Linked DNA regions of Homo sapiens. The protein of the gene in region 1 interacts with the protein of each later gene in a pairwise test. Each region holds a gene or a part of one and is shown in the gene's direction. Other genes may lie near its edges.

What was found. Proteins that work in one complex are often made in the same cells at the same time.
Region 2: the proteins of TLX1 (region 1) and PBX2 interact in binary tests that used the Homo sapiens proteins (3 or more experiments, as listed by UniProt).

The regions. Positions count from the first base shown.
Region 1 is NC_000010.11:101,125,687-101,135,176, forward strand, and holds the start of TLX1 (T-cell leukemia homeobox protein 1), read left to right. Parts: upstream 1-5,613; 5' UTR 5,614-5,855; coding exon 5,856-6,423; intron 6,424-8,452; coding exon of another isoform or gene 8,453-8,488; coding exon 8,489-8,690; intron 8,691-9,490. UniProt on the Homo sapiens protein: Controls the genesis of the spleen. Binds to the DNA sequence 5'-GGCGGTAAGTGG-3'.
Region 2 is NC_000006.12:32,184,233-32,187,530, reverse strand, and holds the end of PBX2 (pre-B-cell leukemia transcription factor 2), read left to right. Parts: intron 1-135; coding exon 136-289; intron 290-629; coding exon 630-718; intron 719-840; coding exon 841-927; intron 928-1,056; coding exon 1,057-1,149; 3' UTR 1,150-2,798; downstream 2,799-3,298. UniProt on the Homo sapiens protein: Transcriptional activator that binds the sequence 5'-ATCAATCAA-3'. Activates transcription of PF4 in complex with MEIS1.

The DNA.
Region 1 (9,490 bases):
CATGTCTGTCTCCTGTCTGTCTGTCCTTTATCCATTCAGGGTCTCTCCACTGATGGGAAAATGTGTGCCTGTCCATTGGTGTTGGAGAGGTCCTCCATATCTTATGTAAGAATTGGGTAGGGGGACAGGGGGCTGGCCTTGGAACAACCCCCCCAACCCCGAGGACTCATTGAGCTGAGTCACTTGGCCTACTCACTCCCCCCACCTCCTCAGTCTAGGCTCCTAGAGACCCTCCTCCCCAACCCAGGGCTCCTGGAGTTACAGTGCCCTTTACTGGGTCTCTAAGTCCCTAAGTCACCAGGTGATCCTGCCTCTCCCACAGCAGGGAAAGTTTTCTGCCCCTTTTCTGAGACAAATGGGAAGGTAGAGGGAACACTTTTGGTACTAGGAATGCAGACCCCATTGGCCCCGCCATGGATCGCATCATGTCACACATCCCCTTACATATTTCTCAGCCCCCTTTCCCTACTATATATCCATTGGGTATACCCTGTGTCCCCCTCCCCACGACCACAGGCCCATACACAGCCACTTCTCTGACAATTCCATCGGAATAAAAGACACTCCTCCCATGGTACACGCCATCTGCAGCACGCAGTCGTAGCAGAGGGATGCCCTCATCCCATCACAGGCACTCACTACAGAGGAACAGTTGTAAACACATACTCATCTTGTTGCAGAAAACACATTCACTTGCATTCTCACTGACACATACATCCTCACATGACAAAATCCAGTTGTATAAAATACCCAGACTCCCTTCTTTTCCTCCAACACTCTTCCCAACATGCATTTTGCTTGCAGTTGTATCCCAACAGCCTAACACAGTGCCTGATACATACTAGATGCTCTATAATTATTCATTGAATACATTGTTAAAATTATTTCTTAAAGACATGCCCAGGACATCTGCACAGCCCTCTCAATCCTGACTGTCACACAGGCTTTCCCATCCAGCTTTCCCCTCGTGGATGCACGGCCCCACAAACACAAAGTAATTAAGTTTCCACACATATCCGTAAGCTAAAGGACAACCCCTGGCCCGGGGGTCTCTTTCAGAGCGGGGAAGAGGAGGAGATTGTGTGGGATCCAAAGGGGCCTCCCCCTGGGCTGAGCCCGTCCTTTCCTCCTCCCCCAGCCCGGGCCCTGGCCCCAGCTGCTCTTCTTTTAATTGGAGGCACTTTTTTATTCTGCAGGCCAGGGGGAGCCGGTGCTTGGGGGGAGGGGTGTTACCAGGTGGCCTCAGAACCAGAGAGAAGGATCTGCAACTCACCTAGGTTCCTGCAAGATAGTCCTGTGAGGCAAGAGCCAAGTTTAGGCTTAAGGAAGCAGCTTGTAGTGAGTGGAGTCAAGAAAGCAGTGTTTGCGTCTGGTCTGCCCCTTTCCAGCTTTCAGTGCCTTGGTTTTCTCATCTGTAAAATGGGGATAACAAAAACCACATCACAGGATTAAAGATGAGTGGAGAGATCATTCTGGTGGCTCACACATGGCAGTTGCTCTGTGAGTCCTGCTTTCTTCCCCTCCCTCCTCGTTCCTATCAGGGCTGTTTTGCAAGGCATGCAAAAGCACGGTGGAAACACAGAAGCTGCAGCGAATATAAACTTGTGTGAGTCTCCTCTCCTGTTTCAGAAAACTTCCCAACCTTGCAACACCGTGCTCAGGTAACACTGCTCTCAGGAGAAGGGGTGGGCGCCAGAGCCCAGCAAATCCTGACCCTCCAGTCTCATCTTTCTAGGTAAGGAAGGGACAGAGAGGGTAGTCTTGGCCCTCAGTAAATACCCTATTGGAAGACAAAGGCTGGGATTAAGCTGACTCACAGAATCCCAGCACCTCATTGAGGGTAAAAGTTGGGAGTATCCCCAATTGGGATAAAAGTTGACTCTGATAAACAAAAAAGGTAGGAGGGGAAAAAGGAAGAAATCCGTCAAGGAAGCGGCTGTGATCGCAGGGGAAAGTCAGTATATCCCTGGGCTGCTGGATTTTAATGAGAAGAGCTTGACAGTCTTAGTGGGCCATGTACAAGGGAGTGGTGACTCTGCCAACCTTAAGCTGGGCCAGGAATGGTAAAGTCTCCTCCCAGGTACCCTGGACAACTGATACCAGATCTGAGGAGTTCAAGAGGTAGATCAGGCAAATGCCAAAAGGGTTGGAAGGCCATCTGAGCTGGAGATGTGCACCTGGAAAGATAGGTGGTTTATTTTATTTTATTTTATTTTATTTTATTTAGTTTTATAAATTTTACCTTCAACCAACCCACACCAAAAGATGGGGTTTTAACTGCAGCAGGTAAAACTGTGGTGAGACTAAAAGGAGTGAGGCCACTAGGACCCAGCCTCAAAAAAAGCTGCAGTACCCTTCCCCATAGTTTTCAGCCTCAAACAAGGAAAATAGCTCAGATTTTGAGATTCCAGATCAATCTTCTCTGTCTATGGAACTTGGAGCAAGTTTGTTCTCTTTACTGAGTCTCAGTTTTCATTTTCTTTTTAGAGATGGGGCATTGCTATGTTGCCCAGGCTAGAGGTGCAATTATAGCACATCTCAGGCTCAAATTCCTGGCCCCAAGTGATCCTCTAGCCTCACCCTGCAGAGCTGCTAGAACTACAGGCACGGGCCACTGCACCCAGCCATTTTTTTCTTTTTAAAAATGAGATATAATTCATGTGCTATAATATTCAGCCCCTTTAAAATGTATAATTCGGTGGGTTTTAATATTTTTAAAAGTTATGTAACCATCACCACTATCTCATTCCAGAATGTTTTCATCACTCCAAAAGGAATTCTGTATCCATTAGCAGTCAATTTCCATTCCCTGCTGCCCCCAGTTCCTGAAAACCACTAATCTATTCTCTGCCTCTGTGGATTTGCCTATTTTGGACATTTCATAAAAGTGGAATCATACAATATGTGGCCTTTGTGCTTGGCTTCTTTCACTTAGCAGAATAGTCTCCTAGGTTCATCCATGTTATAGCATGAACCAGCATTTCCCTTCTTTTCCTTTTTATGGCTAAATAATATTCCATGTGTGGATATAACAAATTTTGTTTATCTATTCATCAGTTGGTGGACATCTGAGTTGTTTCCCCTTTTGGGCTATCATGAATAATACTGCCATGAACATTCATTCAATTCTCTCAATTATAAAAAATTGGGACATTTCTATTAACTTGCCTGGGTTGTTATAAGTCTTAAATGAGATAAGCATGATGTGGTACCTGGCACAAAACTGTCTTTCAATAAATAATTTATTTCTGCTTTAGTTCCCTCAAGATAAGAGGCAGGAAGAGATTCATTCGGGTTCAGACAACTTCCAAAGTAAGTTATGGAACTCCTTGGGAAGGGGTAGAGTACCTGGATTGGGTAAGTGGGAAGAAGAGAACTGGCGAGGGAGCGGAGCCCTCTCATGTTTCTGCTTAGTGTTTTTTTTTGTTTGTTTGTTTTTTGAGATGGAGTCTTGCACTGTTGCCCAGGCTGGAGTGCAGTGGCGCGATCTCAGCTTACTGCAAGCTCTGCCTCCTGGGTTCACGCCATTCTCCTGCCTCAGCTTCCTGAGTAGCTGGGACTACAGGTGCCCACCACCACGCCTGGCTAATTTTTTGTACTTTTGGTAGAGACGGGGTTTCACCGTGTTAGCCAGGATGGTCTCAATCTCCTGACCTCGTGATCTGCCCGCCTTGGCCTCCCAAAGTGCTGGGATTACAGGTGTGAGCCACCATGCCCAGCCTTCTGCTTAGTGTTTACAAACAACTACCAATTTCACATTTGGCTTTGTCTTGAGTGGGCCTTTGTCCACCTGGCTAGAGCTCAGACAAGGTTTTCCCCACAGATACAAACTTCCAACCAGCACGTAGGTTTCCAGGCTAACCCACAAAAGCAAGTTGAGTCTAGCTCCTCCATATTGATCCACACCAATCATAGCTATTCTGAAATGTACTTTCCTCACATCTGTAAAATAGGGAGAATACTCATCTCGAAGGATTGGTGTAGAGTTTATATTGTTCTCCATAATACTAACATCTGTCTTGTTGTATTTGCTTCTTTGCTTATTGTCTGACCCCCTCTATAGAATGTAAGCTTCATGAGGTCAGGACCTTTGTTTTGTTCACTGCTATGTCCCCCATGCCTAGAACAGTGCCTGACACATAGTGAGTACAGTACTCAATAAATATTATTGAATAAAGAGATACATTCTTTGTTATTCACCCAAGATGACCATATTTTGTTGTTTGGGGCTGTATTCTTCAGGAGAGAACAGAAATGAATAAGCCACTCTCTGCCTCCAAGAAGATCTCTTCAAGTGGAGGTGACAGACATGCCCAAAGCAAATAGATTGCAATAAGACTTGATGGGAGAGAATGTGAGTCTTCACATCCTAGCATCTTTCCAGATAGAGACAGGGCCTACCCAAAAGTCTAATCTGAAACTGAACTGAAATAGAACAGAAATAGATCCCAAGTGATGGAACCTGTGCCTTTCCCAAAGCTTGGCTTCTAAAAGGTAGCAAACATTTTCTACTGGAGAGGGGAAAGACAGGAAGAAGAAAAAGGGAGTTTCCTCCTTTTCTCTTGGGCTCTCAGCCAGACAGCCACTGGCAAAACGTTGGAAAGGCCTAAATTTGTCCTGGATGCACTTCCCTGATCCTAGTCCCACCAATCCCAGCCCCCACGGCCTTAAGCCCCTATGGCTCCCTCCCAAGATTCCAAACGTAAGAAAAGAACACACACCACAGTCCAAAGGCTTCTTGTCTGGAATAGCCAACCCTGGGGTAATTGTTAGGTGGAATGCAATCTGGTTGAATTCATTCAAACACTGTAGGAATTGCCTCTTTCGAACCCTGTAGGATTTTACTTCTTGACGCATCTGTTTATTTAAAACCAAAGGGGTATGTTGAGGCATGGGCACCCTGGCAGCAGACCCCAAACCAACCCTCTTGACTTGTGCCTGCCTTTCAGGATATGTTCCCTTCCTGAATTTGTCTAAGAAGGCTGAGTTGGGGGGTGGTTGCTGATTTTTATAACATATAGCCAGTTGTTCATAGGCCTGTGTTTTAAAGAAGGGCAAGCCTGAACTCACCGTCCTGCCTCAGGGCCTGGGCTCCATACCTGGGGAGTAGACAGTCTTCTACTTTCTAAAAAGCTGGACTTGAAATTTGGAGTAAATCTCCTGGTTGAGTGACAGGTGTTTCGCAGCTGAGCCCTTGAGGAGATTCTCCAGTTGGGCAGAGACATCCCTTCCTCAGACGCCTTGTGGGCTGGACTCCTTTGGCCCAGTTCAAAGTGAGGGGAGGGCTCCCAACAGGCCGGGAAGACAGTTGACTTCACCCTCCTTGGGTTTGTCTGTCTGTCCGTCTCTGGGAATGGTCGCTTCCTGTTTTCCCTTTTCCTTTTAAGCCTCGCCTTGTTCCCCTCTTCTCTCTCTTCATGAACTACTCCGAGTCTTGGTCTCCGTCCCTCTATCTCTGGCTCCTGCATCTGTCTCGGCTTCTGGCCTTCCTCTCCCCCTCCCCTCCCCTCCCTCGCGCTGTCATTCACCCCGCTCCTCTCCGCGCACAGCCAATGGAGAGACCCAGTCGAAACCGCGAAGCTCTCTTGCACCGGGCTTTTTCGCCTGGTGATTGATGTCCCAGAGTCAACAGCGAGCGAGCAGCCGGAGCGGGGAAGCAGAAGCCAGAGAGGGGAAGAATACGGCGCCCCCTCTCTCCCTCCCCTCCCCCTTCTACTTTAGCCTTTCTGCGCACTTCGCTTCCAAGTCTCCGCGCAGCCAGGAGCCGCTGTTGCCTCCCAGCCCCTGCTAGCTGCCCCCCGAGCCGAGCGCAGCGAGCGCCGCCGCCCGGGCCCCCCGGTGGGGCCAGGGCCAGCATGGAGCACCTGGGTCCGCACCACCTCCACCCGGGTCACGCAGAGCCCATTAGCTTCGGCATCGACCAGATCCTCAACAGCCCGGACCAGGGTGGCTGCATGGGACCCGCCTCGCGCCTCCAGGACGGAGAATACGGCCTTGGCTGCTTGGTCGGAGGCGCCTACACTTACGGCGGCGGGGGCTCCGCGGCCGCGACGGGGGCTGGAGGAGCGGGGGCCTATGGTACTGGAGGTCCCGGCGGCCCCGGAGGCCCGGCAGGCGGCGGCGGCGCCTGCAGCATGGGTCCTCTGACCGGCTCCTACAACGTGAACATGGCCTTGGCAGGCGGCCCCGGTCCTGGCGGCGGCGGCGGCAGCAGCGGCGGTGCCGGGGCACTCAGCGCTGCGGGGGTAATCCGGGTGCCGGCACACAGGCCGCTCGCCGGAGCCGTGGCCCACCCCCAGCCCCTGGCCACCGGCTTGCCCACCGTGCCCTCTGTGCCTGCCATGCCGGGCGTCAACAACCTCACTGGCCTCACCTTCCCCTGGATGGAGAGTAACCGCAGATACACAAAGGACAGGTTCACAGGTGAGTCCGGCCCGCGCGCTCCCCGCCTGGCCGCGGCCCGGGCTCCGTGCTACCCCTGCCCCGCCGGGTGGCTCCCCAAAGCCGGTTCTGCGCTCCAGGTCGCCCAGCTCTTCTTGGTGCTTCCCCCAAGTTGAGCCGCCCGCCCGATTCTATAACGCAGACTCGCCATGCTTGAAGAGTTCTCTCAGCCTGGACCCCTCTCTGTCTCCCGAAGGACCCCTGCTCGGAGGAGCTCTCCCTGGTCCCCTCTCCGGATCCACTAGCCGGGTCAGGCAGAGAGAAGGAGGCCATAGATTCAGGACCACCTTCTGCAGCTACTCTTGGCCTGGGAATCTTAGAGAAAGGGGTGCAACGTGAACAGTTTCTTCCGTCCTGGCTGCTGTTCTAGGACCCAGGAAGCGAGCCCCAGGATCAGACACAAGAAAAGAACAGGTTCCCCCACCTCCAGTCCCCTACACACATGCACTTCGCGCCCCTAGCTCCGGTGCCCGTGGTGCTGCGGGGCCAGTGGGGGCTCTGAGCCCCGGTAAATCAGCAGAACCAGTGGCCTTTTTTTTTTTTTCCGGAGAGCAGGCTTCATCTGGGAGGATGGCAGCGGGGCTTAGCCGCCCAGGACAGCTAGCTTTTCATTTTCGTTCTCTCCCGGCTGGGTGTCCTACCCCGGGCCCAGCCCTGTTATCTTGGGCACGAACAATGCACCGGTAGGCTGGTGATCGGTGGCGGGAAGACTACTCCCGGGACATTGGGTACTAAGTGGTGGCCGCTGCCGCCTTCTCTGCTGCCCGCTCCCGCCTTCCTCTGCTGGCCCTGGCTCCCTCTGCTCCCGTTTCCACTCTGGGCACTCAACTCTCCCTCTGGCGTGGATCCCTTCCCCCGTTCTCACTTTCTGCTCCCCTTAGGGTTCCCTGGATCCTAGACCACGATCCTTCCGTCCGGGCTGGGAAGCAGCCACAAATTGAGCCCAGGTTAGCCAGCCGATCTTAGAGAGAGGAGGCAGGAGGCACTGGCTGCTGCTGGCAGAGATGGGGCCTCCTGGGGGTCCCCCGGTTCAAGGGCCCAACAGTGGAAGGGGGGTTTACATAACTACTTGGGAGAAGCTGCTGAGAGCTAGATACTGGGCCAGGAGATTCCAAAGCACCCCTGGCTTCCTGCTTCTGTTCCAGGCAGCAGCACAGCCAGGGAAACTGCTTCTGCAGCTTCTTACCAGACTCTGGGGCCACGGCAGAAGTGGTGTGGAGGCTGGTGTCCAGAGGAAGAACAGTTGCTTGGGTCTAGGCCTCAGGAAGGGCCCTCCCTAGAGGGGTCCCAGTGCCCCCAACCTAAGTTTTCTCTGGCCTGGGGCAGCAGGGCCTGGTGCCCATCCCATTCCCCACCCAGGCCAGGCCAGTCTTGAAGGGCCCTGCTGGAAACCCAGCCGGGAGTCCACTAATCCTGGGCCTCTGGTGAAAGGTACTCGGTTTAGGGCCTACCGCGGGGCCCTAATACTGTGTCAGGCATGAAGGCGGTTTCAGCGAGTGTATGGCTGTGGCCTTGTTTTGCTCTGTGTCCTGTGTGCTTGTCCCGTGCCTGTGCTTGTCTGGTCCTGTTTGGGTGTATAGATCTGTGAGTTTGCCCCCGTTGTACGTTGTGTTGGTGTGTGCTGCTGTGGATGGAGGCTCAGGTCGGGTTCCAGAGTCAGGCTCGGCCTCTTACTCTGAGCCTGAAGGCCTGGGGCTGACTGAGGGGAGGGGAGCGTGACCATTAGCTCGCCTTAGACTGCCCCTGGAGGAGAGGCGGCAGGGAGGTGGTTGGGCTCGCGGGAGCCCGGGGCCAGGGAGGCCTCCGTGGTAGCGGCGACGGCGGCGTCGGACTGGCGGGCAGGAGGAGGCCGTTTCCCGCCGTGGGCTTGTCGCTGAGGGCTAACGGGAGGATCTCGGCCCTGCTCGTGGGGGTTCAGCTGCTGCGCTCGCTGACTCGCGGGGTGTTGGGCCTGGGACGCTTCCTGACGCTCTGCTGCTTGCCTCTGCCGTCTGTCTGTCTCCCGCTCCAGTGGCCCTCTCACCCTTCACTGTAACACGCCGTATAGGTCACCCCTATCAGAACCGGACGCCCCCCAAGAAGAAGAAGCCGCGCACGTCCTTCACACGCCTGCAGATCTGCGAGCTGGAGAAGCGCTTCCACCGCCAGAAGTACCTGGCCTCGGCCGAGCGCGCCGCCCTGGCCAAGGCGCTCAAAATGACCGATGCGCAGGTCAAAACCTGGTTCCAGAACCGGCGGACAAAGTGGAGGTGAGCAAGCGGGGCGGGCCGGCCGCCCGCGAGCGGCGCGGTCTCAGGCAGCTCTCGGTTCATTGGCCTCTCGTGGGGCGCACATACTTTTTCCGCTCGCGGTTTCTGATCCTTTCGGAGGAGCGAGCTCCCGCTAGGCTTGCGGGGAGCTGGAAGCAACCGAGGCCGATAGCTGGGATGGGGCTGAAGAGCCCTGGCTCTGTTTTACCGGAGGCTTCAGGGCTTTCTGGTTGGCACACTCTCTGCCGGTGTAGACGCGGCAGGTCTATTCCGCCGCTTGGGCAAACAGGCGGGTTAGTGCACTCCACGCAGTCCAGGCTCCAGGGATCTGTGAGTCCTGGGGAGCTTTTTGTTTGCGCAAACTCTTGCTTATGGAATCCTGCTCTGTCCTGGAGACTGGATGCAGAACAGCCCGCACCTTGTTGCAGCGCTCCAGCCGGGCTCCCGGCAGAGGGTCTGTGGCCCCAGACCGCGGCCCTGCTGACGGTCTCCTCCCCCAGACACCCGGCCTTTGCGCAGCCGGTCCCTACCCTGGAAGGAGAAAATCAATCCGCGCCGGCTGCGGCGGGGTTTCGCGGGTCCCACTGGAAGGGGAATCAATTAGGAGCAGATGGGTGTGTGTGAGAAAGAGAATTTTCCTTCTCCCATAGCCACAACTCTAGTTACTACGCAATGGGCTTTTTGTTTTGTTTTGTTTTTTCACATTTACGCTCACGGACGTGAAGCGTCCCCAACACTCTCGAGCAGCCTCCCTCTCCGCGCGCACTGACGCTTTCTCCGGCTGCACCCTCTGGCACGCT
Region 2 (3,298 bases), on another chromosome or scaffold:
AATTGGAGACCAGCCTGGGCAACAGCATAGTGAGACCAGGAAGCAAAAAAAAAAAAAATGCTGTCACTCACATCTTATTCAGTGAAGGACTTCAGAGGCAAATGTTTCTACCTGACCCTCCTTTCTGCCCCACAGGTCTCCAACTGGTTTGGCAACAAGAGGATTCGCTATAAGAAAAACATCGGAAAGTTCCAAGAGGAGGCAAACATCTATGCTGTCAAGACCGCCGTGTCAGTCACCCAGGGGGGCCACAGCCGCACCAGCTCCCCGACACCCCCTTCCTCTGCAGGTGGATCCCACTGTCACCCCGGCTGACTGTTTTGCACACTTCCTGCTTTTGTTCCCACTTCCTATCTAGGCAGGATCATAGCAGAGAGGGGGCCTTTTGGGGTGAGAGGGACCGAGCTGAGATAGGCTGGAGATGTCAGGGGACAGAGGCCATTCCAGTGATCTTAGTTCTGCCTTTCTTCCCACGGGTGGCCAAGGAACAGCCTGCTCTTTCTGTGTGTTGGAATGTTATTTTGTGGATAATTGGAGTATAGTAGCATGTCCCCACAAGAGTTGAGAGTTGTGGTTCATCCTCTACCATCACGGGCTCTATTACACTCTTCCCTCTCTGCCCCCACAAGGCTCTGGCGGCTCTTTCAATCTCTCAGGATCTGGAGACATGTTTCTGGGGATGCCTGGGCTCAACGGAGATTCCTATTCTGCTTCCCAGGTCAGATGCCCATCTCCTCTCGAATAGGGCTTTCCCCAACTCCATTTCCTCTACTTTAGGATACAAGACCTCTTTCCTCTGAGGCTTCTCTTCACTGTCATACCTTCCTCTGCTGCCTGCAGGTGGAATCACTCCGACACTCGATGGGGCCAGGGGGCTATGGGGATAACCTCGGGGGAGGCCAGATGTACAGCCCACGGGAAATGAGGGTGAGTGGATCCTGAAGCTCCTCTCTGTCCAGTTCTCACAGGACAGAGGGGCATTTTCCCTAGTAATGTTGTGCCCACACAGGGTTCCCAGGGCTTTCTCTGTTTTCTGTACTCTGTCTCTCCTTTCAGGCAAATGGCAGCTGGCAAGAGGCTGTGACCCCCTCTTCAGTGACATCCCCAACGGAGGGACCAGGGAGTGTTCACTCTGATACCTCCAACTGATCTTGCCCCTCAGGGTCACAGGGGTGGGGGCTCTCACAAGGCGACTTGAAGAGGACGCAGGCTTCCAGAGGACAAACCCCAATACAGGAGAAGCACAAGACAGAGAAGGGCCAATGGGGTCATCCCCTCCCTAACGAGACTCTCTGTGCTGGGGGTGCTAATTACATGGCAGGAAGAATGGGGCCTCTAAGGGGAGTGTGGGGTCTGTCTCTCCCTTTTTTCCATCTTTTTCCTCTCTCGCTTTCTTTCTTACACAGAAACATACACATACCGAGAAACCTATTTCTCAGACCCCTTTTTCTCCTCTGTCTTTCTCTCTCCCTCTCCCACACCTCACACACACATACTCCCACTTGCAACTATTCTGTTTCTCTCCTGGGCTCCCCCACTTTCCCTTCCCCACCCCACTTGTATGCTCTGGAATCTGTGGAGACGCCAGCCCTGCCCAATCAGAGATGCCAAAAATGGGGACATGACTTCTGGACAGAGGACATGGGCCACGCCCCCATGCATCCCCACCCCCGCCCCTCCGGACGGCTTACTTACCTCATACGCAGCTCATCTTAAACCAATAGAATCGCTCGGTGGACGAGAGTGTCTGACTCAGATATCTACCTCGGAGGGAGTTTCTGCTACTTTAGGGAATTATTGACTGGGCTTTGGGGTTGAACTTTTTTTTTTTTAAAGAAAGAAAAAGAAACCCTGGGATCCATCTGTTTTTTTTGTTGTTGTTGTTGTTTTTGTTGTTGTTGGTGGTGGTGGTGGTGGTGGTTCTTAATTTTTAATTTAGTTTGGGGAAGTAGCTTGTTTTTTTTTTTATAAATATGTTGATTTCTTGTCTTTTTTTTTTTTTATTTCTTACTTTCCCATATTAGGGGTGATAGCCAAAGGGGTTCTGGTAAGAGAAAGGGGGACAAACAGAACTGGTAAAGAGGCCCCCCTGGCTCCAGGCCTGTCCATCAGGAAGTAAATTTTACAGGGCACCAAGCTTTGCCCCCTAAAATCCCTTAGGTGTTCTTTGTTCATGCAGGCAGGTTTCTGCCGCATTTGATGTGGAGGCAGTGAAGGGCTTGCCCTGCTGGCCTCTCATCCCCCTTCTTCCCACAACCCTTGGGCAGGGCTGGACTCAGTAATTTTGAGGAAATTGAAGATGCCATCTTCCCCTGTGAGTGACATGTCTTTAATTTTTTAAAAAACTACTATTTGAAAATTGGAGGGGGAAGAATGGGAAGGGAGTTATTGCCAAATATGTTAAATATGGGTTGGGGTGCTTGTATATGTATCTTCCTCAATTTCCCCATAAATGAGGTATCTTTTTGTCACACCAAAATCAAGGGGTAGGGAGAGGGAGGAGGTTGCAAAAAGCCAGATGTGGGGGAAAAGTAACATCAACACTGTCCCATCCTCAGCCCTGAACTAGCTACCATCTGATCCCCTCAGACATTCTCAGGATTTTACAAGACTGTCAGAGTGGGGAACCCCTCCCATTAAAGATCCGGGCAGGACTGGGGACAGGTTGGAAGTGTGATGGGTGGGGGGGTGGGAGGCATGGGCCGGGGGCAGTTCTCTCCTCACTTGTAAACTTGTGTAGTTTCACAGAAAAAAAACAAAATGCAGTTTTAAATAAAGAAATTTCTTTTTTCCCTGGGTTTAGTTGAGAATTTTTTTCAAAAAACATGAGAAACCCCAGAAAAAAAATGATTTTCTTTCACGAAGTTCCAAACAGGTTTCTCTCCTGTTCCCCAGCCTTGCCTTCATGATGCAGGCCCAATTGCACCCTTGCAGACAACAGTCTGGCCTGAACCCTATTGATGCAACTTTGCGCAATCAAGATGGGGCTCCAGTGGGTCACCAGGCAGCCCTGATGGACTGATGGAATAAATAGGATCGGGGGCTCTGAGGGAATGAGACCCTAGAGGGTACACTCCCCATCCCCCAGGGAAGTGACTGTACCCAGAGGCTGGTAGTACCCAGGGGTGGGGTGATAATTATTTCTCTAGTACCTGAAGGACTCTTGTCCCAAAGGCATGAATTCCTAGCATTCCCTGTGACAAGACGACTGAAAGATGGGGGCTGGAGAGAGGGTGCAGGCCCCACCTAGGGCGGAGGCCACAGCAGGGAGAGGGGCAGACAGAGCCAGGACCCTGGA